Homo sapiens: one gene and its partner. The protein of the gene in region 1 interacts with the protein of each later gene in a biochemical or structural test. Each region holds a gene or a part of one and is shown in the gene's direction. Other genes may lie near its edges.

The links.
Region 2: the proteins of PSTPIP1 (region 1) and PTPN12 form a complex in vitro, tested with the Homo sapiens proteins (one study listed by BioGRID).

The regions. Positions count from the first base shown.
Region 1 is NC_000015.10:77,007,141-77,021,959, forward strand, and holds part of PSTPIP1 (proline-serine-threonine phosphatase-interacting protein 1), read left to right. Parts: intron 1-706; exon of another isoform or gene 707-916; coding exon of another isoform or gene 917-925; intron 926-11,007; coding exon 11,008-11,108; intron 11,109-11,316; coding exon 11,317-11,391; intron 11,392-14,819. UniProt on the Homo sapiens protein: Involved in regulation of the actin cytoskeleton. May regulate WAS actin-bundling activity. Bridges the interaction between ABL1 and PTPN18 leading to ABL1 dephosphorylation.
Region 2 is NC_000007.14:77,529,248-77,544,498, forward strand, and holds the start of PTPN12 (tyrosine-protein phosphatase non-receptor type 12), read left to right. Parts: upstream 1-8,047; 5' UTR 8,048-8,299; coding exon 8,300-8,398; intron 8,399-8,795; exon of another isoform or gene 8,796-8,859; intron 8,860-15,251. UniProt on the Homo sapiens protein: Dephosphorylates a range of proteins, and thereby regulates cellular signaling cascades. Dephosphorylates cellular tyrosine kinases, such as ERBB2 and PTK2B/PYK2, and thereby regulates signaling via ERBB2 and PTK2B/PYK2.

The DNA.
Region 1 (14,819 bases):
AGAAGGTCCATCTATGACATCTCGGCTTCCTTGAGGCCCCACCTGCTCTCACTCTTCTTCAAGGAGGGTCTGGAGGGAAGGCCTGGAGGCTGGGTCACCAACTTCCTCAGTGGATCAAGATAAGACCCTGCAAGGAATTAATGTCTGTCCCGGCCTCAGCTTGCCTGGATAAAAATCAGACTTCTGGCCCTGTGCAGTGGCTCATGCCTGTAATTCCAGCACTCTGGAAAGCTGAGGCAGGTGGATTGCTCGAGCCCAGGAGTTCAAGACTAGCCTAGGAAGCATGGCAAAACCCAATCTCTACAAAAAATACAAAAATTAGCTGGGGCGTGGTGGTGCACACCTGTGGTCCCAGCTACCTGGGGGGCTGAGGTGGGAGGATCACTTGAGCCCAGGAGGTCGAGGTTGCAGTGAGCTGTAATCATGCCACTGCACTCCAGCCTGGGCAACAGAACACTTTTTTTTTTTTTTTGAGATGGACTCTCGCTCTGCTGCCCAAGCTGGAGTGCAGTGGCACAATCTCAGCTCACTGCAAGCTCCGCCTCCTGGGTTCACGCCATTCTCCTGCCTCAGCCTCCCGAGTAGCTGGGACTACAGGCACCCACCACCATGCCCAGCTAATTTTTTTGTATTTTTAGTAGAGACGGGGTTTCACTGGTTAGCCAGGATGGTCTCGATCTCCTGACCTCGTGATCTGCCCGTCTAGGCCTCCCAAAGTGCTGGGATTACAAGTGTGAGCCACCGCGCCCGACTGGCAATAGAACACTTTGAGGACTGCAGTCACTGAAGCAGAAGGGATTCCCTTCTTGGTCACCTCCTGAACAATTGCCCATTGACCTGGACCAGCTCTGAGCCCACTCTCCTAGGCATCAGGACATCAGACTACAGGTGGTAGGAAGACCCAGAACAGCTGAGGATGGTTCAGGCAAGCAGAGCTGGGGGTGGAGGGCGGGAGATCAGCACAGAAGTCTGGATCAGTGTCCCTGGAGCTGCAGTGAATACTAAACGCAGCCAGGTGTGAGGTCTGCACAGCACAGGGAAGCACAGGGTGTGGGTGGGGTGTTTGGGGATATCTGTGAGGATTCTCACTGACCCTGAAACCAAAGAAACAGGTGTGGCTGGTGCCAGGACCAAGGGAAGACCAGCAGCTGAGCCTGGGTCTAGGGTCAGAGCAGGAGCCGCTCTGAAGCTGCAGAAATTTCATCCCCGTCCTCAGATAACTCCCAGTCCTCAAGGGAAGGAGCTTGCACTCAGGGTCTGGCAGTCTTTTTGTTTTGTTTGTTTTTTGAGACAGAGTCCCACTCTGTTGACCAGGCTGGAGTGCAGTGGCACCGTGTCGGCTCACTGCAACCTCCGTCTCCTGGGCTCAAGCAATTATCCTGCCTCAGCCTCCCGAGTAGCTGGGATTACAGGTGCCCGCCACCACACCCGGCTAATTTTTGTATTTTTAGTAGAGATGGGGTTTCATCATGTTGACCAGGCTTGTCTCGCACTCCTGACCTCAGGTAATCCACCCGCCTCGGCTTTCCAAAGTGCTGGGATTACAGGCGTGAGCCACTGCGCCCAGCATTCTTGATCTGAGTCCTACCTCTGTGTAGGCTGAGAGTAAAACGTTAAATAGTGAGTGGTCCCAGAGAGCACTAGGCTCCTCACACAGCCCCCAGGCCTGGGGTAGGGGGAGCATCTGACTCTAAGTAGAGTCGTGTTTCTCCACCATGCGGCTGTGTGTAACATGTACACTGGCTGTGTTGGGCAGAGCAGGGCGATTTCCCAGACTCCAACATAGAAGCCTTTACTTGGCAGGCGCCATCTTTGTCTCTCACTCTGACCTTGGAGCCCAGTGGCCCGCTTCGATCCTACTACACTCATGGGTGGTCCTGGGGAGCCCCTCAACTCTCTGAGCCTTGGTTCCTTGTTTGTAAATATTGTAGTAGTAAACTAACTTTGGTGGTTAGAGGATTGAGAGTGGAGACATGCAGGTTAATGGCCAAGCAAGGATAAGGAGCCCCACGTGCCATCCCCTGCAGGTGTGGAGTCCAACTAGCCCCCCAGGCACGGAAGGCCTCAGGCTCAGCTCCGAGGCCCTGAACCTGCTGAGGATGGCAGAGAGAGCCAAAGGGCCTCCAGAGGCTGCAGGGGTCCCTGCCTTCAAGGAAGGGCACGGGCATAGGAGTGGAGCTCCTCTGAAGCTCTAGGGGCCCATCTCTGTCTCTTGAGCAAGTCCCAAGCCCAGGGGAGCCTGCCAGCCCTCACACCTACAGCAAATCACAGCCGCAAAGCAGGCACCTCATATCAGCCCTATAAGGGCTTAGGAGTCCACGTATTCTCCCCAATTTACAGATGAAAAAATTGAGGCCAGAGAGTGGGAGCCACTAGTCTAGAGAAGTGTCCCAGCTAGGATCAAACCCAGTTCTCCTTGTAAACGCCCCTTCCCTGGGCTCCTCTCAGTTAACATGCATGAATCCCCTCGGCTGCCCTTCCAGGAGCCCGGTGAGCGTCAAATGCCCTGCATGAGGCTCCTGCAGGTGTTGTCCATTCAGTCCTCAGAGCCCCTGGAAGTGGGTGATGCTCTCATCCCGATCTCACAGAGGAGGAATCTGGGCTCAGGAGGTTTGTGACTCATGCAGACTGTGTGGAACTGGCCAGAACCAGAACCCAGTGCCTGAGCCCTGTCACGCCCCACTGCCTGGACTCGCTGTGGGCCTGTCCTCCCCTGGGACATCCCTGGCAGGCGTAGGTGGTGTGGGAGGGCAATGCCTGGGGACGGGGATGTGCAATGACAGTGCCTGGACCACTGGTGCCCCTGGCTGGTCACTCACAGGCGGGAGTCCATTCGGCAAGGAGCCGTGCTCTTCCTGTGAAGACGCCTGGACCCCTCCTGGCTGGCTACAGGGTCAGTGCCTCCTCCAGGGCTTGGGGTCTGGGGTGGCTCAGCTCCATCCTCCCCTGCATCAGTCACCCCCAAGGGCCCACGGCCTCCCTTCCTCACTTGCCCTCACTGTCGGCCTCCTTCCTCGCCCACTGCTGGATCCTAGTGAGCCTCCAACTGCCAAATCAGCTTGGCAGGGGCGGTACAGAGCTGTGTAACCTGGACAAGTCACTGTTATCCTCACTTCCTTGTCTGCCTGTAAGATGGAACAGTAACAGCACAGTACTAACTTGACGGGGTTCCCTGAGGACTGGAGGGGATCATGCGTGAGAGCCCCACCAGGCACCGCACACTCAATCCCTTCCCCTGAACCTGGAACCTGGTCCTGGTTCCTATGACCTCCTGGGAAGGTCCTGCCCTTTGCTGTGTGTGACTTGGCTCTCCTCAGTCTGGCCTCAGGCCACCTTACAGACACCTGCTCCATCTCCCTGCACCTGTCTCTGCTGCCTTGAAGCAGGTTGCACAGGAACAGCACTAGCACTGGACTTCCAGGCAGCTGAGTCTGAGGGGCGTGTCTCCATCTACCTCTGGCCGCCTTGTGTTTGCTCCTTGCCTCCTCTCTCACTTTTCTTCTCTTTTCTATTTCTTTTTCTTTTGAGACAGGGTCTTACTCTGTCACCCAGGCTGGAGTGCAATGGCTCAATCTCGGCTCACTGCAGCCTCTGCCTCCCAGGTTAAAGTGATTCTCCTGCCTCACCCTCCGAGTAGCGGGGATTACATGTGCCCGCCACTACGCCCAGCTAATTTTGTATTTTTAGTAGAGACAGGGTTTCACCATGTTGGCCAGGCTGGTCTCAAACTCCTGAGCTCAAGTGATCCACCCCTCTCAGCCTCCCAAAGTGCTGGGATTTCAGTTGTGAGCCACCACGTCCAGCCCTCTCTCTCTTTTCTGCATGTTTTGGTTTCATGACACAGGAGAAAGAAGTGGGGATTGGGCTGGCCCCATGAGAGTGAAGGAGGGGAAGCAGGCGGGGAACTCAGGCAGTGGGGTGCTTTCCTGCCTCATCATTGAGAAGGCCTATTTAAAAGAACAAAGCTTTCAAGCCAGACAGACCTTGGTCAAAAGCCAGACGCCCCACAACATTAGAGAGAGTCACCTCTCTTGTCTTCACCTTCCTCATCTTCATGACAGACAGTAGCTGCCTCGTGGTCAGTATTGCTGAGGGCAGGTACCACACTCATGCACAGTGTGTCCTTGTCCAGTGCCTGTGTTGTCCCTTCAGTGGGACCCCTGGGAGTCCCTGGAAGCTCACAGGGCTCTGATGGGGTCCCTGTCAGCCACGGGCCTGTGGGCCTCCCAGCACAGTGGAGCCCAGCCCAGGCATCTCTGGGACTCGGCCAGCTGGGCTGCTCAGGTGAGGGGCCCTGTAAGGCCCGGCAGAGGCCATCAGACTGGGACTCGGAGGAGAACTGTGGCACTCTGGAAACTCATTTCTAATCTCAAGGTCCTGTCAGCCCAGGTGAACAAAGAGTCGCTCATCTGACATTAATGCACATTTGTTCTCTAAAAACTAAAAGTCTGTCTTTGCCTTCTTGGCCCTCTGTCTTCAACACTTACCCTGGGCCATCTCAGACAGCTGTAAGTCATCTTCATCCCATATTTATTTGCTTATACATGGATCGCAGCAGTACTTGAGTCAGGGGACCCCTAGACACCAAGTCCCTAGTTTAACAGGCCATCTGAGGCTTGAGTCCTCTCTGTGGAACCAGACCTGCTTACAGACTGTAGTGATGGGCGCTCCTCACCTGTCAAAGCCCCCCACCCTCTTTCCATACCTACAGCCATTCAGGCTCCTGGGAAGCCTTTCCTTGCATTGTCCTGGAGTTGGCCTCCCTGTCTCTGCCCCCATGAGTCCTGGCTTGGGCTGGGAAATGCCAGCCACTAGTGCTCCCTCTGCTTCTGATGGCCCCACAGAGATCTCCAGGTGAGACTTTTCCTAGGCCATTCCCTCACAGCTTTGGCTTGGAACTCTCCCTTCCCTCCCTATCACCTCCTCCCAAATACTCTGGGTAAGCAACCGCCTTGTTTACTGAGGGCTCTGGCCATCCATCCATCCATCCATCCATCCATCCATCCATCCATCCATCCACCCACCCACCCACCCACCCATTCACCCATCCACCTGTCCATCCATCCATCCGTCCACCCATCTGTCCATCCATCCATCCACCCACTCATCCATCTACCTACCCATCCACTCATCCACCCATCCACCCACCCATCTACCCATCCATGCATCCACCCACTCACCCATCCCTCCATTTGTCCACCTGTCCACCAGTCCACCCATCCACCCACCCACCTATCCACCCATCCATCCATCCACCCACCCACCCATCTACCCATCCACCCATCCATCCACCCACCCATCTACCCATCCACCCATCCATCCACCCACCCATCTACCCATCCACCCATCCATCCACCCACCCATCCATCCATCCTTCCATCCATCCATTCATCCATCCATCCATCCATCAAGTTGTACCTGAGTGTTTGGTCCTTTGCCTGCCTCACTTTGCCAACCAGTAATGGTGGAGAGGAGTCCCACTGTGGGGTACTGACTGTAGGGCGGTGGAAGGAGCCTGGTTGCTACCCATTGACTTAGCATCCCTGTGCCTCTGTTTCCGTATCTATACAATGGGGATGATAATTCCTGTCTCAGAGGACTGTTGTAAGAAGTAGAGGGGACCAGTGTGACTGGCTTCTTTAAAGGTGCTGGGTAATGGGTCATTGAATCTGCAAGCAAATGATCTGGTCCCCTCCATGGGGCACCTCAGGAAGCAGCCGTCATAAGGCCTTGTCCTCTTGAAGGCCTCACTGAGGCGCTTCTCCAGCCCATCACTCAGCATGTCTGTGAGCAGAGCTGTGTGTAGGCACCAGGTGCCGGGATCCAGTGGGGAACCTGAAAGACCCCCCTCTGCCTCCATGGAGCTCAGCCCTTCCTACCTCAGGTTTTCAGTCCACAGAAGACAAGCAACAGGAAACTAGGTGCTAGCAAACCCACAGTGTCAGCCACACTGGCTGCAGATGTCACTGCTGGTGTGAGGGAGGAGAGCACCCCAGCACCATGCAGCTCCGTGCAGCTACCTTCCAAAGCTGCTGCTACGTCTTGCTTCCCCACCTGTGGCCCATGCTGGAGCTTTCCCAGTCATCTTCAGGTGTAACCCAATCCAGTCCAAGCTAGTATCACAATTTCACTCTCATTCAATTTAAAGCTCCCCAGTTCCCCGACTTTCACTGGAAGCCTCTGATGGGGAAAAGAGAACAGGGTCAGTTTCCTCCCTTGCCATGGGGTACCCACACTGCACTGCCAGCTGCCTCTGGGGTCTCCATGGGGGGGTGGTGGGGCACAGGCCGTGACTGTAAAGGGGAGAAACATCTCATTGCCCTGGTACTGTTGTAACTGGTGACAGTGAATGCACACAGGTCAGCCCTTTCTCTCCCTGGCACCTGGGCAGGTTTTTTGGTGACCCTGCCCCCCTGGAGTCCCTGACCACTCCGTTCCCTACAGCCTTCCACTTCCAACCTCTCCCGTTGCACCCAATAGTCTGCTCCACTCAGCTTCTCCTAGGGGCTCCTCTCTCCCTGTCAGGCTATTCTCATGGACAGAATTACCAGGCAGCTCTTCCTGGCTACCTTCCACGGCCCCCACTTGGTTCCCAGGGAAGATTTTGGTGCCAGTTCTTGGACATAGCAGGTAGGAACTCGGACCAAAACCCAGGTGTCCCCCTCCAAGGTTGGAGGCTTAGCTGTCCTCTGATAGATGCTGTATTCTGGAGTGCCAGGCAAGGGAGCATTTGAAAAAGGCTCTGCTCCCCTTTAAATGGAACCTCTGGTGGAGGAAGGTGTGTAGGGCGAGAGGGGAGGTGATGAGGTGACTCATTTCTTCCAGCCTGGCCCCAGCTGAGGGAAGGTGTTTCTGGTCGGGGAGGTGGCAGGCAGGCGGGGAGGGCTCGGGGAGCTGCTGCTTGCTGAACTGCCCCTGGGTGACAGGCCCTGAGTGTGGGGCTTTGCAGAGAGGCAAAGTAATGGGAAGTTAACAGCCAAGATCGTGGCTTGGGATATCTGGGTTATATCCCAGCTGCACCCGGCAGGTCCCTGGGCAGATTGGGTAACCTCTCTGGGTTACCTTTTCCTCATCCATAAAATGGTAGTCATCACCCCTAGCCCAGTATCTGCCTTGTGGTGAGCCCTGATCTTGAGTCCACTGTTCTCACCTATGCGCACGATTTCACTTGCTTCTCGGGTCACCTCTAGGCGGTGAGAACTATTAGGCCCATTTTCACAGGGAAGGAAACAGGCTGAGAAGGGCCAGGGTCACGGGAGGTGTGAACCCACATCTAGTCAGTCAGACCCTTCCCAGCCTCTCAAACAGGCCCGAGTACCCTCTCTGACCTGTGGCCTACACTAACAGGACTGTGCCCTAGAGGGGCGGGCTGTCAGGGCCCGAAAGGGGGTTAGCCTCCTGCCCCCACTTTCCCAATGAGGAAACCAGGTCCTGAGAAGTAAAGTGGCTTGCTTCAGGCCCTGGTGTCTGTGGTCTCGCCCCTGCAGCCACCAAGAGTTATGGGCGTGAAAAGGGGGAAGTGGCGGTAGTTACAGAGGGTGCTTCTCCACTCAAGCCGTGGGGGTGTGGAGGGCCCTGGCCGGCTCACAGGCCTGGGCCGTGGCTCACACCAACACCCACCAGAGAATGAAGCCAGTAGGCTGTCCCTGACAGAACAGGGCACCCAGGCCTTGGCCACACTGCCTCAAGGCAGAGGCAGGAATATGTTTCCTCCCAAGAGCCTCCTCCTGGAGTTCTGGGATGCCGCCTGAGGCCGATGGCCACACACCATGGACGGCGAGGGCTGGGTCCCACATCTGGCTCAAGTGAGCCTCCCAGAGGAAGAGACTGTGCCCGCTCCCCACCTGGCACCCCTAATCCAGGACGGGTTATCCTGGGTGCCACATGGCTGGGCCGTGACCACTGGCTGTTCATGGGTTACCCAGAGCCGCACTCCTCTGACCCAGCCTGGGCCCCAGGCTAGCCTCTGTGAATCCACAGTAACTGAATTATAGCCCAAAATACAGCTTTGATTTGAGGTGGAGATAATTTGAGTAATCATTTTCAAGAGTTATTTTTTCAAATCATGTTTGGATGTTCCAAAATAGAAAATGGTTCCTGGGCTGTCTACTAAATGGCTGATGTAGGTATATGGCTTTGGGGACAGGTTGACCTGCATTCAGATCCCAAACTCTGCCCTTTACCCATTGAGTGGCTTTGGGCAGTCTCTTTCCCTGTTTGGGCCTCCTGTCCCCATCTTCGCCTCCCGAGATCTGTGTTGTGGTCAGGAAGATAACGCTATGATACCCTTGGTGCAGTGTGTGCCAGGTAGACTTGATAAATAGAGATTTCACAAAGGGCAGGGCCACAGGCAGCATTCGGATGACAGAGGTTGGACAGGATGAGGGGAGATGGAGGTAAGAGGAGTGGGGGACAACTAGGGTAGGTCCCCTGGGGGTGATGCTGATGCTGGGTCTTGGGTGGCAGACCCACATGACTGATTAAGTTACAGGATGATTGGTTCATTCATTTCCTAAACACATCCTGAGCCTGACTGTCCCAGCTCAGAGCACGGAGTCAGACCCATGCCCTCGAGGAAGTGGCAGGGGTGGGGGTGAAGGAGGAGGGCGCGGGCTGGGGGAAGGGGTGCAGGGCTGGGAGGCATCGTGAGCAGCCCCTGGAGAGTCAGGCACTTCCTCGGAACATCCCAGTCCTTGTGACAGTAGCTCACTCGGCCACAGCCCCTGCCAGCAGCCCAAAGCTCTGAGCGGGGGACTGGGCGGGATCCTGGAGCCTGCAGCCTCTGGGGACTTGAGCACGGCGGTCACAGCCTGCAGGGCCTCTCGCTGCTTTCTGACTCCTCCCGAATGGCCAGCGTAGGTTCGGTTTGCTTCTCTTTCCACTCTGGGGGCCTCCATAAGGACAGGAGAAGGGTTCCCTTGGCGTCAGGGCTGGGTGTGGGGCTGGGCTCCAGGTGGCCTCTCCAGAGGTATCAGGAAGGAATGACAGGTCCCCTGAGAGTCCGGATTCTTGTCCTGACTCTGCAGCGTCAAGCAAGCCATTTCCTTCTCTGGCCTCAGTTTCCTGAGGAGTGAGGGAAGCCGCACAAGGTGGTTCCCAGTTCTCAGGGCGGGGGGGTCTGTGGCATTCTGACATGAATGCTGGTGTCCCTCCGGGCAGGTGCAGGAGGCTGAGGCCCCAGATTTGTTTTTCTTCCCAGCCGCCAGGAGCTCTGACCTGAGGGTCTGGAGTGAGGGCAGAGGCTGAGGGGTGGGAAGGGGAGGGCTGCTGGCTGCAAGCAGCTGCCCACCAAAACCACAGAAATGGAAGCCTGGTCCAAGCTAACCCAGTGATGTCAACCTGGACATGGGGGTGGGCGCCTGCCTCTGAGGCTGGGGGGACAGCTTCTGGCCTTCCAGGCTAGACACGCTGCTTGTTGCTCTGTGGACAGCTGAGCCTGGACCAGGCCCTCCTCAGGAATTTCTAGGGATGCTTATGGAGGGGGTAGGAGCTTGGGGTCCTAAGTGTCCTACAGGCCAGGAGAGTCCACCTGCTGAGGGTGGGCTGGAGTTTGTGGGGAGGGGGGGCACTGTTGGGGCAATTTATGCCATTGCTACCCCTACTTCAGATTCTTCTTAGACCTTGGAGAATACCTTCTCCTTCCAGCACCTGACTCAAATGCCTCTTCCTGCAGAGAGCTCTCCTGGATTTCGACTCCATCCCTGTTCCCCTCACACCCCTAAGGTGGCATTTGAGGGGAGACATGGGTCAGGGGAAGGAGTACCAGGCTTTACCTGAGTCATGTGTGTGCGACCCTGGAGTGTGCGTGACCTTGGAGACTGTAATGTGTGTGGTCAGGGGAGCTGGGACTTCTTCCTCCAGTCTCTGAGGCTTTAGGGGTCCTCAGGGATAGAAAGGAAGACAGACTAGGTGCGGAATGTCAGGCCTGCCTTGGTGCAGTTGGTGACAAAAATCCTGTCTCCCCAGCACCTCTCAAGCTCCCCTGGAGTAAGCCTGCGTGCAGTGCCTGGGAGAGCTCAGGGGGTTGTGGCGGGGATCCTGGCCCCGGGACCCACTCCCCAAGCCTGGGAATGTCCTGGGAGACCTCTGTTCCTTCATAGTCCTTAAAGACTACCTCCCTCCCCCAACTTCTCACACCCAGCTTCCCACACCAGCAGCTCAGACACACACCTGGAATCCACTGCACAGTGAGAAAGGAGAATTGGGTTGGCCAGGAACAACAGCCAGGGCAAGCAGGGCAAGTGCCAGGCAGCAGAGGGTAGCTGTCCCTGGAGAGTTCTCTGAGGCTCCCCACCCCACCCCAGTCCAGAGGTGAATGTAGGGTGTGCTTGCGCATGCTCTGACCTGGACTGAAGTCACCCTCCATGCCCACCTCCCTGGATCTCCGTGAGGGGGGGTTTCCTGAGCCCACAGAGAGCCCAGCGCAGCATCTGGCACATGGCTGGTGCCCAAGAAACCGCAATTGCTGTGATGGTCATGGAGACTGCACAGTGCTGAGGTGAAGGGCAGGGACCCCAGCCAGACAGCCTGGGGTTCAAGGCCAGGCCAGCCACTTTCCAGCTGGGCCGCTCTGGATACGATCACATGTCACCCTCCTACACCTCGGTTTCCCCACTTAGCTGAGATAGGGATATTGGAAGGGTGGCACTGTGAGTGAGTGAATTTCAGGCCTGGCTGTCATCAGGGGGACTTAAGGGTGGCTCTTCCCATCTGCTATCTCATGCTGATGTGTGTCCTGTCCTGTGAGCTCTCCAGATGCCAGGCCCGGCACCCCCGGCCCTGTCAGCTGGGTGGGGCTCACTTATGTACCTGTCACCTCTGCAGATGTGAGGGGACCTCCTGTGTGCCTGTGTAAAGCCAGGTCTGGAGTCCCAAGAGCTTGCCCTGAGCAGGGGAGATGGAGGCAGGAGGGAGGCTGTTCCCAGAGATGGTGGGAGGGTCCCCACAGGGCTGTGCTCAGTGTCGCCTGGTCGTGGCCCTCATGTGTCCTTCTGTCCTGTGTCACAGTGCAGGGACTTCACAGCCCACACGGGCTACGAGGTGCTGCTGCAGCGGCTTCTGGATGGCAGGAAGATGTGCAAAGACATGGAGGAGCTACTGAGGCAGAGGTGAGCTGCTGGGCAGGCCATGGGGAGCGCAGGCAGGAAGCAGGTGGCTTCCGCTCGGCTCCTGGGACAGTGGACGAGGCCCCCATCCCAGCCAAACTCTGTCAGAACACGCCCTGCTTTAAAAAACTCTTCTGTGTTCCCTCAAACCTGGGCCTCCCCCAGAGGTGGCAAGTCACTGATGATCTTTCAAATGCCCTTTTTTTTGCAGGGCCCAGGCGGAGGAGCGGTACGGGAAGGAGCTGGTGCAGATCGCACGGAAGGCAGGTGGCCAGACGGAGATCAAGTAAGATCTCCCGGGCCCTGGGGCTCACTCCTCTCCTCTGCTGGCAGTTTCTGGGCCTTTAGATGAGGTTTAGGTCTTCCTGGCATGGGGGAGGCTGGGCAGAACCAGGGTAGGTCTGGATTGCTCCTTGGTGCCTGGTTATTGGGCATTCAGGGTGAGGCCAGGTTCTGTGAGGGAGGAAGCCCGAGGGTCTGAGTTCTGGAAAGGGTCTGGGCAGGGGAGACAGGAGGCCATCCATCCTCAGTCATTTGCAGCGCAGTCTGCACCAGCCTGGGTGGCCTCCACTGAAGTCCTGAGGGGCAGGTGACAGGCGTCTCCACTGGTGGCTCAAGTCCCCTGCAGCACTGGCTCAGCATGGGCTTCAAGGATGGAGATGTAGCCAGAGACAGGGGTCCAGGAGGGGACACACCTGGGTTCCGGTGTCAGCTCCTCACCCCCCAGCTGTCTGACCATGGGCTGGCTGCTGACACACTCTGTGGCTCCGTTTCCTCATCAGTGATGGGAAAGTAACGCAGCCCTCCTCAAAGGAAGAAGTGGGCCCATGGGCTTAGCTGAGGCCTGGTTAGAGGGCAGGCCGTCAGGGAAGTGGCTCTGATGAAGCGGGAGTCTCCAGCCCCACAGGTCTCTGCACGCAGACTGCTGGGGTGGGAGGCCAGGTGAGGAGATGAAGGTGAGTTCAGGACACAGCCACCCTAACAGTGGAGTGGAGGGGCTGCTCTGGGAAGGCCCAGACTGTCCCCCTGGGTGAGGACAGAGCCAGGCCAAGGGGCAGACAGACCACCGGCCTCCAACTTCTTGAAAGGGCTCTGCAGAGTCCTCCTGCCGAGGGGCCCTGAGCCTGACCCTGCAGCTGCTGTGGAACCCCTTCCCTTCCTGCCTTCTCCCCCGAGAGAGGAACTGAATGTGCCATACTCTGAAGGTCCCCCAAAGACACCAGGCACCCTGGCGGCTCCTGCTTCCAACCAGGAGCCAGAGATCACAGGAAGGCTTAGATGTGGCATGAGCCGTGTGTGAGGCCAGAAAGTTGCACACAGCCCTGGGAGGACGGAGGGCTCTGAGGAGCCCTTGGAGCTCTGGTCCCGGCTCGGCCAATCTGAGCTGTGGGACTGTGGGCCAGTCGCCTAGCCTCTCCAAGTTTGTTTCTCACCTCCCACTCCAGCGAGCTGCCGTGCAAATCAACAAGAACATGGTCTGAGGGCCTCCCAAGGGAAGGGCTGAGGGCCGGGTGCAGGCTGGGCACAGAGGAGGGCTCAGGACATGGTGAGGAGTGAATGGACGTATGCAGGGAGGTGTTTTCTGCAGGAAGCAGTGCCCAGAGCTCTCAGCCAGGGGAGGAGCAGCTGTGGGGGCCTGGCAGCATGACCAGGGGAGCCCCTCCTGGTCTCCTGGCCTCCCAGCCTCCAGGCCAGCTGGAAGAGAACTTTCCCAGAAAGAGAGGGTACCTCATGGGGAGAACTCAGAGACTCAGGAGAGGTGGAGAGGGTGGCCCCAGCAGGGCACAATGGGAGCCAGGCTGGAGTGGGTCTGTGTGATGCAGGCTCAGGGGATTGTGAGTCACAGGGGATTTACAGCAGGGAAAGAGAAGCTACCCACAGAAAATACAATGGGGGTGGGGAGCAGGGTGGGCCTCAGGAAGCAGGAGGTACGCAACATCTTGCTCCATTTGTAGAACTAGGAAGGGGCCAGGTGGAGGCTCTGGGCGGCCCTGATTGCGCCATGGTTATTCAAGGCCAGGTGGGGCAGGGTCTGCCCTGACTTATCCTTTGTGTGGCCCTGGATGGTCCTCCCTGTCTCTGAGTCCAGGGTCTGTACCTATGGAAGGGGATGGTCACTTGGAGAGGTGTTCTGGGCAGTCACAAGGACAAGCAGAGAGTGCCAAGCCACAGGGGTTCACTGCACACAGTGGGGCTCCATAGTGTTGCTCTTGACCCATGTGGCATGAAGTACTGTTGATGAGGCCATGCAGCTGTTCCTTTCGGTGTAGGCCAAGCATCCATCCTCCATCCATTTAGTCACCATTTAATTGAGGACCTACTATGTGCCATGCCCTGGATGGGTCAGGAGGATTCACTAATTTAAAATAAAATAAAGGGCTTTGCCATTCCTTAGCCAGAGTCCAGCACAGTGAGGGTGACTTCCTTCTCCTTCCTAGTCCTTTGCATTAGGGCCCATTTATGCGCCACCTCCTCCAGGAAGCCCTCCCAGACACCTTGCCTTGCCTTACTGTCAGAGTCTTGGCTTAGACCCAATTACCCCTCCCCATGCCAACCTGAAGGGCTTTTGGTGGGGAAGTGTGAGCAGTGGCCGTGGACCTGTTTCCTCATCTTAGACTCCTGTGGGGGGGGGGGGTGTGTGTGTTGGCCCTCAGGAAAGGTGACCCGGCTCTTCAACATCGGGGCTGGTGGCCCACCCTCCAGGGCCCATCCCTGAGTAGGGGAAGCCCCTGGCCTCCCTGAGGCCCACAGCTGCCCCCCAGGTCTATGGGATGCTCATTCCCTGCCCCTTGCAGAACGGGCAGGGGACTGGGGGATGGGAAGGCTAGGAACAGGGTGCAGAACGAGGACAAAAGCCAGGTGGTTAAGTGACCCTATAAATAGCCTAGTGAGCCCTGAGGGCAGAACTGCTGCCTGAAGGTACTGCATTTCTGCAGTCCCCTGACCTCAAACCAGCCGGGAGCCACCCTCAGGCCTGGAGGCTCGGGCCACTGAAATTAACAGGAGGTTACATCTTAAGTGATTTTTGACATGTACCTCCTTCACATGTTAACTCAGCAAACATCCGTGGGGCAGTGGCAATGGAGGATGGACAAGTAAGACCCAGTCCCCAAACTCCAGGGATCCCCACCAGCGCTTTCAGTGCATTTTAAAGACAGCATTAGGGCCAGGCGCCGTGCCTCACGCCTATAATCCCATCACTTTGGGAGGCTGACCTGAGGTCAGGAGTTCGAGACCAGCCTGGCCAACATGGTGAAACCCCGTCTCTATCAACAATATAAAAATTAGTTGGGCATGGTGACGCGAGCCTGCAGTCCCAGCTACTCAGGAGGCTGAAGCAGGAGAATCACTTGAACCTGGGAGACGGAGGTTGCAGTGAGCCCAGATTGCACCACTGCACTCCAGCCTGGGCTGCAGAGCGAGACTCCATCTTAAAAAAAAAGATAGTGTTAGTATTTGCAGGGGGCTTACCAACATTGCTGACATCACATGTCCAGCCCTGCAGAGACTTTGCCTGACTCTCCTTTCCAGCCTCTGGGCCTTTGCTCCTGCTGTTGCCCTGTTGCTCCCCTGCCCAGTCCCACCCATCCCTCAAGGCCTGCCTGAAATGTCACCTCCCTCAGAAAGCTGTCACCTCCACTCCCCTATTGCTCATCCTGCGTCAGGTAAGGTGCTGGGGGTGCTGCATGCCCCCAGAAGCTGCACAGGGCAGGG
Region 2 (15,251 bases), on another chromosome or scaffold:
TCCGAGGTTCAAGCAATCCTCCCACCTCAGCCTCCCAAGTAGCTGGGACTACAGGTATGCACCACCACGCCTGGGTAATTTAAAAATTTTTTTTGTAGAGACTGGGTCTCACTGTGTTGCCTAGGCTGTTCTCAAACTCCTGGGCTCAAGCAATTCTCCTGTCTCAGCCTCCCACAGTGCTGGGATTGCAGGTGTGAGCCGTTGCGCCTGGCCTATTTTGTGTTTTCTATGAGTAAGTATATAGTACACCACTGCTGAAACATTATCTCATTAAGCCAGCACCAGGTGGCTTTCCTAAAAGAGGAAACTGATGCTTAGACAGCTTAAGTGACTTACCCTGAACAAGAAATGGAACAGGTTTTTGAACCTTCATTTCTCTGACTTCAGAGCCCACGCTCTTTATTACTGCCCTATTCTGTTTCAAGAAAAGCAAAATTTACTTATGGAATAAATGTCAACTGAACCTCTCCTAAAAGTTTATCGGAAGTCAGGTTACTCTGGAGATTCTCCCCATCTCCCCCATGGCCATATGGGTTATGTTGTGACATACCCACATATTGCTGCATGTCTGCTTAATGTTCTTTTCTTTCCTTTAAAAGTTTATTTTATTTTACTTTATAGATACGGGGTTTCGCCATGTTGGCCAGGCTGGTCTCGAACTCCTGGCCTCAAGTGATGTGCTCGCCTCAGCCTCCCGAAATGCTGGGCTTACAGGCGTGAGCCACTGAGTGCATCCTAATGTTCTCTTCCTAATCAGATTCTTTATACTTTCTACTCTCTCTCAAGGCTTCAAATCGCTAATTCTACCCCATGGCATACATTCAGCTTCTGCCCTTGCTGCATAATGACTTACTCTTTCTAGGTTTCCAAATTCAGATTCCTAAGAGTGAGAACTGATTGGCCCAGACCATCTTCTTATACCAGGACATAGGTTGCTGGCCAGTCTGTATGGGCTGATTAACTTCTCAACTGCCCAAACACGTGGCTGTGACAGAGGATAGGCAGAGCAGTAAATTTCCCTGAGACTATAGTATAGGTAGGTGAGCTTTCTAAAGCTGGACCTACCATGTGCCATTTTTAAAAATCTCCCAAACAAGATCTGCCTCCTTCCACCCAGCTTTTTTTTCTGAGACAGGGTCTTGCTCTGTTGCCCAAGCTAGAGTGCAGCGGTACAATCATGGCTCACTCCAGCTTGGAACTCCGGGGCTTAAGCAATCCTCCTGCCTCAGCCTCCCGACTAGCTGGGATTACAGGCACACATCACCACGCCTGGGTAATTTTTGTATTTTTAGTAGAGACAGGGTTTCATCGTGTTGGCCAGGCTGGTCTCGAACTCCTGACCTCAAGTGATCTGCCCGCCTTGGCCTCCCAAAGTGTTGGGATTACAGGCGTGAGCCAGGGCACCCAGCCTGCATTTCTTACTTTTTATTTTATTTTTTTTGAGACGGAGTCTTGCTCTGTCACTCAGGCTGGAGTGCAGTGGCGTGATCTCAGCTCACTGCAAGCTCTGCCTCCTGGGTTCACGCCATTCTCCTGCCTCAGCCTCCGGAGTAGCTGGGACTACAGGCTCCAGCCACCACGCCCGGCTAATTATTCGTATTTTTTTTTTTTAAGTAGAGACGGGGTTTCACCGTGTTAGCCAGGATGGTCTCGATCTCCTGACCTCGTGATCTGCCCGCCTTGGCCTCCCAAAGTGCTGGGATTACATGCGTGAGCCACCGTGCCCGGCCACTTCTTACTTTTATTTTTGTTGTTTCATGTATTGGCTCCTAATATCTCTCATTCCCTTCTCTCTCATTCACAATTTATCAGAAAAGTACCAGATTACTATTTTCCTCATTTCCATAATTTTGCTTCTATCCTCAGAAACCTCTTGTGGCTCCCATGCCTACAGTATCAACATTCTCCAGAGCCTAGTCTACTTTGGAGCTTTCACATCTATACAAATGTTCTACTTCAAACTTCTGCTTTGCTGTCTTCATGCTTATCACTTCTCTTGCCTGGGCGTTCTACTTCCTGTTCAAACCTAATTTAACTTACCCTTTAAGGTCTACCTCTGTGACCACCCCATGCTGACAGCCCGGTCCACAATTCTCTCTCCTCAGAACTGTTAAATCACTTATTATCTGTATCACTCTTTCACATTTATTAACTTAAAGTAACTAAGAGTTTATTGTTTTTCCTGTCTCCTGAACTAAGATATTCATTCCTTAGGAGTAGGAGCCATCTCTATAACATTTTTGTATCTGACACACACAGCATAAACCCTCATATGTTGATATGTTAAAAAGCCATATGTAGATTGAAACAAGACCTAAATGTATTGAAAAGAAGAAAAAGCCACTTTGAGAGGCCGAGGTGGGTGGATCACGAGGTCAGGAGATCGAGACCATCCTGGCTAACATGGTGAAACCCTGTCTCTACTAAAAATACAAAAAAATTAGTCAGGCATGGGGGCGGGCGCCTGTAGTCCAAGCTACTCGGGAGGCTGAGGCAGGAGAATGGCATGGAACCCGGGAGGTGGAGCTTGCAGTGAGCCGAGATCACGCCACTGCACTCCAGCCTGGGCGACAGAGTGAGACTTTGTCTCAAAAAAAAAAAAAAAAAGAAGAAGAAGAAGAAGAAGAAGAAAAAGCTAGCAAGGTACCAAGGAAAGCACTGCTAAGCCTTTCCAAAGAACTGAAATCCTGGCGGGGCTTGGTGGTTCACGCCTGTAATCCCAGCACTTTGGGAGGCCGAGGTGGGTTAATCATTTGAGGTCAGGGGTTCGAGACTAGCCTGGCCAACGTTGTGAAACCCCATCTCTACTAAAAATTCAAAAAAATTAGCCGGGCGTGGTGGCAGGCACCTGTAAGCCCAGCTACTGGGAGGCTGAGGCAGGAGAATCACTTGAACCAGGAGGCTCAGGTTGCAGTGAGCCGAGATCGCGCCACTGCACTCCAGCCTGTGCGACTAAGGAAGACTCCATCTCAAAAAAGAAAAAAAAAGAAAAAAAAGAATTGAAATCCTTGGAGATAGTTTACATAAATTTTCCCAAACCTAGCAGTAGATGCCAAAGGTAGCCGCTGAGAACTCAAGAAACTCTCAAGTGTTGCAAGAAAGAGAGAGAAGCTTGCCAATAAGACGAAACATTTTAAAAAAGACTAAAAACACCAGCCAAAATGGGACTCAATACCTTAAACAAGTAACACTTCTTACCCAACACTATACCAAACCGTACTAGACTGTTACACAACTTGTTCAGCATATCTTCTTTACCGATCATTGTCTGGTTGGTACATTCTTTTGAACCATCAAAAGCAGAGGCACTTCTGATCATCCTTCCATTTCTCTTCCTACAGTCGAATTTCTCTCCCATTTCTGAGGGGAAAGGGCCATCTACAATAAGCATGATCAAGCCCTGATTCTGGCATTTCCTCACATCCCGTGAAACTCAGTCTCAGTATCTGGTTAAAGTAAAATACTGCGGGCCCTTTTTTCAAATAAAGTTTACCTTAGAAATTAAACTATTCCTCTAAGTGAATTTTTGAAATACAGAGCAAAACTGTATCTCTTTGCATGCACACACATATATAAATGCATAGGAAAAAATTTGGAAGGGCATAACTTGAAGTGCATTTTTTTCTTTTTTCTTTTTTTTGTTTTTTTGTTTTTGTTTTGTTTTGTTTTGTTTTTTATTGATCATTCTTGGGTGTTTCTCACAGAGGGGGATTTGGCAGGGTCATAGGACAATAGTGGAGGGAAGGTCAGCAGATAAACAAGTGAACAAAGGTCTTTGGTTTTCCTAGGCAGAGGACCCTGCGGCCTTCCGCAGCGTTTGTGTCCCTGGGTACTTGAGATTAGGGAGTGGTGATGACTCTTAATGAGCATGCTGCCTTCAAGCATCTGTTTAACAAAGCACATCTTGCACCGCCCTTCATCCATTTAACTCTGAGTGGACACAGCACATGTTTCAGAGAGCACAGGGTTGGGGGTAAGGTCACAGATCAACAGGATCCCAAGGCAGAAGAATTTTTCTTAGTACAGAACAAAATGAAAAGTCTCCCATGTCTACTTCTACACAGACACGGCAACCATCCGACTTCTCAATCTTTTCCCCACCTTTCCCCCCTTTCTATTCCACAAAGCCGCCATTGTCATCCTGGCCGTTCTCAATGAGCTGCTGGGCACACCTCCCAGACGGGGTGGTGGCCGGGCAGAGGGGCTCCTCACTTCCCAGTAGGGGCGGCCGGGCAGAGGCGCCCCTCACCTCCCGGAAGGGACGGCTGGCCGGGCGGGGGGCCGACCCCCCCACCTCCCACCCGGACGGGGCGGCTGGCCAGGCAGAGGGGCTCCCCACCTCCCAGTAGGGGCGGCCGGGCAGAGGCGCCCCTCACCTCCCGGACGGGACGGCTGGCCGGGCGGGGGGCTGACCCCCCCACCTCCCTCCCGGACGGGGCGGCTGGCCGGGCAGGGGGCTGACCCCCCCACCTCCCTCCCGGACTGGGCGGCTGGCCGGGCGGGGGGCTGACCCCCCCCACCTCCCTCCCGGACTGGGCGGCTGGCCGGGCGGGGGGCTGACCCCCCCACCTCCCTCCCGGACGGGGCGGCTGGCCGGGCAGAGGGACTCCTCACTTCCCAGTAGGGGCGGCCGGGCAGAGGCGCCCCTCACCTCCTGGACGGGGCGGCTGGCGGGCGGGGGGCTGACCCCCCCACCTCCCTCCCGGACGGGGCGACTGGCCGGGCGGGTCTGACCCCCCCACCTCCCTCCGGACGGGGCGACTGGCCTGGCCGGCGGCTGACCCCCCCACCTCCCTCCCGGACGGGGCGGCTGGCCTGGCGGGGGGCTGACCCCCCCCACCTCCCTCCGGGACAGGGTGGCTGCCAGGCGGAGACGCTCCTCACTTCCCAGACGGGGTGGCTGCCGGGCGGAGGGTCTCCTCACTTCTCAGACGGGGCAGCCGGGCAGAGACGCTCCTCACCTCCCAGACGGGGTGGCAGCCGGGCAGGGGCGCTCCTCACATCCCAGACGGGGCGGCGGGGCAGAGGCGCTCCCCACATCCCAGACGATGGGCGGCCGGGCAGAGACGCTCCTCACTTCCTAGATGTGATGGCGGCCGGAAGAGGCGCTCCTCACTTCCCAGATGGGATGGCGGCCGGGCAGAGAGGCTCCTCACTTCCTAGATGTGATGGCGGCCAGGCAGAGACGCTCCTCACTTCCCAGACGGGGTGGCGGCCGGGCAGAGGCTGCAATCTCGGCACTTTGGGAGGCCAAGGCAGGCGGCTGGAAGGTGGAGGTTGTAGCGAGCCGAGATCACGCCACTGCACTCCAGCCTGGGCACCATTGAGCACTGAGTGAACCAGACTCCGTCTGCAATCCCGGCACCTCGGGAGGCCGAGGCTGGCGGATCACTCGCGGTTAGGAGCTGGAGACCAGCCCGGCCAACACAGCGAAACCCCGTTTCCACCAAAAAAATACGAAAACCAGTCAGGCGTGGCGGCGCGCGCCTGCAATTGCAGGCACTCCGCAGGCGGAGGCAGGAGAATCAGGCAGGGAGGCTCTTTTTTTTTTTTAGAGACAGAGTTTCGCTCTTGTTGCCCAGGCTGGAGTGCAATGGCGTGATCTCGCTCAATGCAACCTCCGCCTCCTGGGTTCAAGCAATTCTCCTGCCTCAGCCTCCTGACTAGCTGGGATTACAGGCATGCGTCACCACGCCCGGCTAATTTTTTGTATTTTTAGTAAAGACGGGGTTGGTTTCACCATATTGGCCAGGCTGGTCTTGAACTCCTGACCTCAGGTGATCCGCCCGCCTCGGCCTCCCAAAGGGTTGGGATTACAGGTGTGAACCATCGCGCCTGGCCTTTTTATTTTTATTTTTTGAGACAGACTCTCGCTCTTTCACCCAGGCTGGAGTGTGGTGGCACGACCTCGGCTCACTGCAATCTCCGCCTCTCAGGTTCAGGCGATTCTTCTGCCTCAGCCTCTGGAGTACCTGGGACTACAGGCGTGCACCACCACACCCGGCTTTGTATTTTTAGCAGAGACAGGGTTTCACCATATCGGCCAGGTTGGTCTCGAACTCCTGACCTCAAGTGATCCACCCAACTCGGCCTCCCGAAGTGCTAGGATTACAGGTGTGAGCCACTGCACCTGGTCTGAAGTGCATATTTCTGGAGTGGATGTATTAGTTGGATTATTTTAACAGAAATATTTTCCTTTTTTTGAAGAAGTAAATAAACTATATCCTGTTACACCTATTTTCTTTTCTTTTTTTTTTTTTTGAGACAGGGCCTCACTCCCGTCGCCCAGGTTGGGGTGCAATGGTGTGATCACAGCTCACTGCAACCTCCGCCTCCCGGGTTCAGGTGATCCTCCCATCTCGGCCTCCCAAAGTGCTGGGATTACAGGCGTGAGCCACCGCGCCCGGCCTACACCTATTTTCTTCAATGAGTTTTTCACTAAATTCCATAGTGCTCCTAACTTTCATCTGAGAAAGTATTCTACCACTGATATTTCCTATTATAACCAAATTCGCTGACCAATCTGCTCTGTAAAAAAAGGTTTGTGGGTATAAATGACGAAAGTCAGTTCATGGATCAAATCCTTCAGTTCTGTCACATTGTGAGAGGCCACTGTTGTGAAAGTAAAATAACTTCTAGTTACGGCTCTGCTAAGAATACGCTGGGGGATGTCAGGAAGTCGCTTTATTTGTAAAATGATGAGTTAGACCAGAATATATTCTCTGATAGAAGTTTACAAAGATGAATAAAGATTTATAGGCTAGGCGCGGTGGCTCACGCCTAAAATCCCAACACTTTCGGAAGCTGAGGATCCCTAGTGCACAGGAATTCGAGATCAGCCTGGGCAACCTGGTGAGACCCCCTTCTCTACCAAAAATAAATAAATAAATAAATAATAAATTTTTAAAATGTATTAGCTGGGCTTGGTGACGTAGTGAGGCAGGAGGATGCCTTGAGCCCAGGAGTTCAAGGCTGCAGCGAGCCGTGATCATAGCACTGCACTTTGGCATGGGAGATAGAGCAAGACCTTAGCTCTAAAAAAAAAAAAAAAAAAAAATTAATAGATTTATAAAGTCCATTCTATGGAGGAAAGTCTCTTATTCAGTTATGAACTGCTGCGAACCTAAAGGCAGGAAGGCAAATTCCCTTCAGTTCGGCAAACACGAAGACCCCACATTCGCGTCGTCTGTGAAGAAGGCACTCCGAACCTCAGGCGCTCACTCGCCAGGTTTAAGAGGATGAGCAAAGAATAAAAGTCCTCTCACCCAGGAAGCGTTTCGCTTCCCTTAGCTGGAGCCACGCTCCAAGGTGCCAAAGCCTAATTGCTGTCCACTCTCACCAATCCGTTAGCAAGATGAGCATCTACCTGCTGCGAACGTGGCGGTGACACTACTACAGCTCCCAGCCTGCCTCCCGCCCGCCCCCACTCCTGGACTCCACAGACCGTGACTTGTAGTCCCAGCCCACGGCTGGCGGCGGTGCGGGACTCCTGAAAACTGCTTTTCCTCCCTAGTAGGCGGTGAGACCGCAAATTCCATCAGAATCCTACTCTGACCCACTAGGGCTTGGCCCGCTCAGAGTCGCATTCCCTCCTCCAAATGAACCAACTCTCCTCCCAGCGATACTCCGACCTCTGAGCACCCCGGGCGGGGCCACGCCCCGGAAATGGAGTCAGGTCTCCAGGCCGCCCGCTGAAGTGCCTTCCAGCCACTCCAAGCGGGGCTGGGGCCGGCGGGGCGGGCTTGGGGGCGTGGCCGGGAGGCGGGCGGGGATGCATCTGCGGGCGCAGCGCTTGGGGCGGAGCCGCAGCGCGAGGCCGCGCATCTGGGTGGCGGCGGGGACGCGCCCGTGGGGAGAGGCGGCTGCGGCTGCGGCTGCGGCTGCTGGCGGGGGGTGGGGGGGAGGAGGAACCGGGAAGGGGGGGCAGGGCGAGCGGAGAGCTAGCTGTGTTCCTGAGGCGGCGGCGGCGGCGGCGGCGGCGGCGGCGTCTCCGACGGAGGAGGAGGGCGGGGAAGGAGGATGGAGCAAGCTGGGGGTTGGGGTTGGCGCTAGCGCAGCGGCTCGCCTGGTACTGTGGGAGAGCGGCGGCTGCTCCTGGAAGTTGTGGTGTCGGGAGCCCAGCCGGTGCCGCCGCAGCCGCCGCCTAGGGCGGTGGGGAGGAGGAGGGAGCCGCGGGGCTTGGCGGGGTCGGGAGGGAGGGACGTGCTGGGGGAACGAGCTGGGGAAGACGGAGCGGGCTCTGTGCCGGGCGGGCGGGCGGCGGGGGGGCCAGCGACCGCAGCCGGGGGGACGCGGGAGGATGGAGCAAGTGGAGATCCTGAGGAAATTCATCCAGAGGGTCCAGGCCATGAAGAGTCCTGACCACAATGGGGAGGACAACTTCGCCCGGGACTTCATGGTGAGTCTCTCCCCTCGCTGTCGCGTTTTCTTGCCGGCGCCGGAGCCCATCGCCGCCTCTCCCGGCCGGGCCGCCAGTGCTTTGTGTACCTCTGTGAGGAGAGGGGCGGAGGGGGCGCGCACCAGCCGGGTGAGCCGGGTGGTCTCGGAGGCCAGCGGGAGGCGAGAGCGCCTCCCCCCGTGGCCTCCTTTCTTCTCCCATGTTCGCGACCCCCGCGCGGGTTCCCGGGACGCGAAGGGAGCGGCCGCGCGGCCGAGCCCGCAGCCTGCACCGTGGCTCGCGACCACCTATTGTTTACCGGGCCGGGAGCCGTAGGCAAGTGAGGTGCAGGCCGGGGGGGGGGGCTCGCGTTTCCACACCTCCCCGCGCAGTTCGCTCCTCCCAGGAGGGTCGAGGCAAGGTATCTGGCTGTGACCGGGAGGAGTGCAGATCGTGGCTGACAGAGGAACGGGGGTATTGAGGTTGGCACTAACTCCTGGGATCCCTTTGCTCTAGCTGGTCTCAAAGCGGGCAGGGTAGGACTTAGGCCGTTTCTGGGGTCGCAGTCATGATCTCCAACGCTTGGGAAAGGATTGCCCATAAGGAATCTCATGGGTTTACCTAATTTCCATTTACCCGCGTCCCGCTTCTCCTCTCCTGAGGCCCAGGTTTGAGGTGGTCTTGGGGTCCGTGTGACTATAGGTTCAGGGGATAAGTGTGGGTGGGGGAATTATCCTGAAGGAAGCCAGCCGACTTCGGACTCCCCAGGGGATATTGCCGAAGGCGGAGGGGATGTGACTATCACTTCCTATCCGGGGTGGGGGTGGGGAACTTGGGAACAATAGTCCTGGTGGGGCGGAGGCGACGCTACGGGCCGAAGCCCTGAACTGGGAGATAACCTTCCCAGCGCCCCCCCGCCTCCGCCACCCCCTACTTTCCGCCCTCTGCTTGTGCAGGCAGTCTTGAGAGGAGGTGAAGGTTAAAAGTCTTGTTCATGAAATTGCTCTAGATACACTATTGCTTTAGCACACTGTGAGGGGGTCAGATCCGAAGGCGTGAGACCAGAAGTCGACTTCCTACGTTACCCACCCCCCCAACCCCCGCCCTTTTTATTTTTCTGCTGGACAATGTTCCCTCTAGGGTTGTTTCCCGGCTTAGGAGGCGGTGGTTGCGGCTGCTGCTCCTACGGATATTGCGCAAGACTGGGGCGTTGGAAACCCTGTAGGTCTGGGGAATGAAAAAGGAAGTGGGACTTTGGGAAGTGGTTGCTCCTTAGTCTTGGCGGGGGTTGGGAATGGGAAATAAGCTGGGGAAAATTTTTATCTTGGGTAAGGTACACCTCGAAGAATAATCACTTAATTCTGAAATCTGATTATGAGAAGGATACACAGTTAATGCCTGTAAAATGAATGGGCAGCAAACATTGGCTAGTTTTTATTTTTTGTTTAAAAAGTACAGTAGTTTTTATGGTGGAGGTGATATGACTTAGTAGTGAATACTTTTTCACGTTTTAAAGAGACTGGTCTAGTAAAGCTTTAGCGTTAAATTTTTAACAGCTTATAAAATAGGCCCTTGACCATACACAGTATTATACTAGCATCGTTGAGCTTTGTGATTCCCGCCTCCCCAGACCAATAATAGAGGACGGAAGTAAAGTTTTCTCAGTATCTTTTGAAGATTGAAAATATAAGTTAAATAATCTAACTTATTCCTTATTAAAAATAAAAATATTGCTTATATTTAAACATTTGCTCTTGATATTTAGCCTATGTATTTTTGAAAAATTACTTTTTGATCTGAAAGGGTTAAGGAAAACGGCATTTTCCCTTTTTACTATTGAGAGTTTTTATTGTCTTGGTATCTTTTGAATGGTGTCATTTACAGCAATTGGATGGAGTCCCTTTTTTACTACTTTCTAGCAAAAGTAGAAGAAAATACTTTGAATATTTAAGATGTTTAAAACTAGTTTTTTTGGGTTTTGTTGTTTGGTTGGTTGGTTGGTTGGTTTTTTTTTTGAGACGGAGTCTCGCTCTACGCTCTGTCGCCCCGGCTGGAGTGCAGCGGCGCAATCTCAGCTCACTGCAACCTCTGCCTCCCAGATTCAAGCGATGCTCCTGCCTCAGCCTCCTGAGTAGCTGAGATTATAGGCACGTGCCACCACGCCCGGCTAATTTTTGTCCGAAGTAGCCGGGACTACAGGCGCAAGCTACCACGCCCTGCTAATTTTGTATTTTTAGTAGAGATGGGGTTTCGCCATATTTGCAGGCTGCTCTCGAACTCCTCATCTCAAGTGATCCATCTGCTTTGGCCTCCCAAAGTGCTGGGATTACAGGCGTGAGCCACCATGCCCGGCCTAAAACTAGTTTTTTACCGTCTTACTTTGGTTATGGAAGAAGAGATGGTGTGGTCCCTGGTCATTTCTTGTTTGCATGCTAGTCACCTTGTTATCCCTAGGCATATACCGTCAGGAAGGAGCATTGTTTGGTGATGCGGGCCATCAGGACAGGTTGCCCAGCCTCTGAACTCCTGTACTGGAGAAGTGGCCTTAGGGTTCATGCTTTGGGGATGAGTCAGGGATTCCTATTGGAGAGTTCATTTCTTTCTTTCTTTCTTTCTTTCTTTTTTTTTTGAGATGTAACACCTCGCTGTGTCGCCCAGGTTGGAGTGCAGTGGCTCAATCTCGGCTCACTGCATCCTCCACCTCCCAGGTTCAAGCGATTCTCCTGCCTCAGCCTCCTGAGTAGCTGAGATTACAGGCGCATGCCACCACGCCTGGCTAATTTTTGTATTTTTAGTAGAGATGGGATTTCACCATATTGGCCAGACTGGTCTTGAACTTTCATCTGACTGACTTTGTGATCTGCCCGCCTCAGCCTCCCAAAGTGCTAGGATTACAGGCATGAGCCACCGAGAGTTCATTTCTCCAAGAGTAAATGAGTTTCCTTTTTCTTCCATGATACCTAGGTATAGCTAGGTGATTCTACATTAGAGATTTGATGACTAAGGCTATTCTTTTATAGGGCTTTTTTTTTTTTTAATTTCCTGACTTGATAAGCAATAGCTGTAATTAAGACAGCCGGTAGTTGGTGCTGCTTTTTCCCCTGACTGGAAGGCTGGAGAGGAACTATGTTCTCCTGGCATGGAAAGAGAAAAAAAAGATTAGCTTATAGATTCTATTATTTTTAAATTCTGATGTCGATTAAAAATGCATTTTAAATTCTTAACATTTTATGACTGAGCCTTAGAGATAATGTAGCTGATATAACTGTTCCATCATAAAATAATGTTTATTCCAAATTTGGAAATTAATAGAATAATAATAATGCCTTACACTTAGACCACAGTTCAAATGAACACTCCACTTGCCTGACTGGTGATGATGCTCTTTTCGCTCTATCCAGCTGTCCTACAGTCCTGTCATTTAAAGGCTACCTCTGTTAATATTTTTTGGTTTTGTTTTGTTTTGTTGTTTTGTTCTGTTTTTGAGACAGGGTCTCACTCTGTCACCCAGGCTGGAGTGCATGGTTGCGATCCTGGCTCACGGCAGCGTCGGTCTCCCTGGGCTCAGGTGATCCTCCCACTTCAGCCTCCAGAGTAGCTGGGGCTATGGGCCCACCCCACCAAGCCCTGCTGATTTTTGTATTTTTTGTAGAGACAGGGTTTCCCCATGTTGCCCAGGCTGGTCTCAAACTCCTGGGCTCAAGCAATCCACCTGCCTCAGCCTCAAAGTGCTGGGGTTACAGGTGTGAGCCACCGTAGCCGGCCTACTACTTGGTAACTATCTTATATCTTAATTTTGTTTCTTTATGTTTGAGTATTTAGGTCATTCTACTTTCTGCTGTTACATATAGTAATTCTGTGATTAACATTTTTGCTGAAACTGACATTTTTCACTGTTGCATAAGATAGCTTCCCAGGAGTACTAGGTAGACGTATATAAACATTTAATACATGTTCATAAACTTGAAAAAGTTTTGTCAGTTTATACAACTGTCATAATGTATGAGTGTTCATATTATAATTTTCTTGATCTTTATTTGATGGTTGAAAACTGATATCTTGTTTTAACTTGAATTTCTTGATTACTATTGAGGATAGAAATTTTCCACCTGTCATTACTATTCTATGAGTGTCTATTCCTGGCCTTGGTTGTGCCCCATACTGTTAAAGAGGAGACAGCTAAGGTACCCAGACTGTGCAGAACTATGTTGCCTAGATGGTTATTTGCATGTTGAAAACATGCTAATTTTGCTAATAAATTAGCAAATAGCTAATTTGTGGCTGATCCAGAATTTGATCTCAATTATCTCTACTTTTAATATTTACAAAATGAGAGATAAATGTATAAAGTAGGGTGGTGCACATTCATGTTTGACAGACCTAGGTTTTAACTCCACACAGACTCCCTCTGATGGCTGGGGGTTGGGGAGGTGGTCCTGGACCATACTTTGAGAACCAGTGAGCTAATACATGGTAAATGATAAAGGTAATGCTGGGAAAGTTAGGTAGAGGTCTTTTTGTGAAGGATCTTACATCTATGCTATACTTAGATTTTATTCTACAGACCGATAATAGCAATTCTGGACAGTCTGCATTGTAACTCCTAGAGACATGGAGAAAGTAGGGAGGTGTTAAGAAAATAGACATGCTGGTCCACTCCAGCGTCATTCCCCCATCTCACCTTCTCCAGCCTGCTCCTTGAGTTGTACTCTGAACCTTCACTTACTTAGATAGGTTCTGGTAGAAAAGGTGAGAATCATTAGTCTGGGTTTCTGGAGCACTACTGAGTCTTTTAAGAAAGGTAAACAGTCATTTGTGTTTTACAAAGTTGAATCTGATAGCAGTATGAAGGGTGGCATTTTGGAAGCTGTTGAAATATAAGAAGTGAGATGTGAGGGCCTGAAGTGAACTGAGATGGGGAAATAGAGTGTATACAACACATCTGATAAGAATTAAGAAAGGAGTCTCAATGATTCATTAGATGTAGGTAGTAAAGAAGAAAAGAGTATAGTGTTATGACTCGCAAAATATCTAGCTTGGTATCTGTCACCCAAGCTAGAGAATACCATTTGGTAGAGTAAGGAGTGAGGGAGGAGAAACAAGTAGAGGAGACCAAACAACATTGTAGGAGGAAGTTTCAGGGGGAGAAGAGGATAAATTTAATTTTCAACATGTTAAAACTGCGGTGCCTCTGAGACATCCAGTAGAAATGTAGAGCTCAAGATTTCTGACAGGACGGAGTTAAAGATGTAGGCATCATAATATAAGCATGTAGGAGATAGTCGACAGCATGGGAGTGAATGAGCTTATTCCAACAAACTTATAGAGTGACCAGCTTTAGGTTGAAGAACATCAGTCTTAAAATAACAGCCAAAAGAAGGATATACTAGTGATTGTTCCTGAGAAGGTGTGGTCAAGGAGGAGGGAGGAGAACCAGAGATGTCAGAAAAGCCAGGGAGAGTTTCAAGAAAGGAGTTATTACCAGAGTCAAATAATGCTGGGAGGACCGGTAAGGTGAGGTTGAGAAAGTACCTATTCCATTTGGCACATAGGAGTGCTTTGGTGACTAGAAAAAACAGTTTGGGTTGGGGTATGGGAAGAAGCTAGATTATAGGGTGAAGGGTGGGTTTAGTGTCTTTCCATTTTTTTTAACATTTTGAAAGTAGATGGTAGGAGCTAGAGGAAGATTGGTTGAAGGAGAGTGTGCCCCTTCCACTGCCTTTTTTTTTTTTTTTTAAAGAGAGAACTAGAGAATATTTTTCTTATTATTTCTTGTCTATGTGTATATCCTCTTTAGCCTGGGAAGATCTTATGTTGCAGTCTTGATAAATATAAAAATTTTAATCATTTGTTTATTCAGTGTTGTAGCTTATAGGTTTAAAAAAACTAATAATAGCTTTATTGAGATATAAGTACCTACCATAAGATTTATTCATTTAAAGTCTATGATTCACTAGTTTTTTATTACATTGATGAAGTTATGCAACAATAACCATAATCAATTTTAGGACATTTTCTTCACTTTCTGTACCCATTAGCAGTCACTCCCCGCCTTCCCATAAGCCCCAGGCAACCACAAATCTACCTTCTGTTTCCATAGATTTAAGTATTCTGGACATTTTATATAAATGGAATCATACAATATGTGGTGTTTTGTGACTGACTCCACCTAACATGATGATTTCAAGTTTCATCCATGTTATAGTATTGATCCGTAGTACTTTTGGCCTTTTTATGGCTGAATAATATTCTATTGTATAGATACCACATTTTGTTTATCCATTCATCGTGTTGATGGGTATTTGAATTGTTTCCACTTTTTGGCTAATGTGAATAATGCAGCTATGAACATTTGTGTACAAGTTTCTGTGTGGACACATTTTCAGGTCTCTTGGGTATATATCTAAGTGTGGAATTGCTCAGTCACGTGGTAACACTATGTTTAACATTTTGCGGAACTGCCAGACTGTTATCCAAAGCTGCTGCACATATTACATTCCAATCAGGAATATATGAGGGTTCCAGTTCCTCTACATCTTCACCGATACTTGTTGCTGTCTTTTTGATTATAGGCATCCTACTGGGTGTGAAGTGGTATCTTCTTGTGGTTAGCTTGTAAGATTTTGTGTGTCTTAATTTGTCTTTCAAAGCTAGAGTGATAGGAAATATTTTCCAGTCCTTGCATTTGAGCTAATCTTAGTGCTTACCCAGTGCCACTGGTTTAGTTATGGTTTTCTTATCCATCCTTTGATGAGTATTCACCTAAACATATTTACATCAACTAACTTCAGAAGTGGAAGTGAACTTTTAAGTAACTCTCCAGACATGGTTCACTGAGACAGTAAACTAAAAATTTACTTTAAGCATTCTCAAG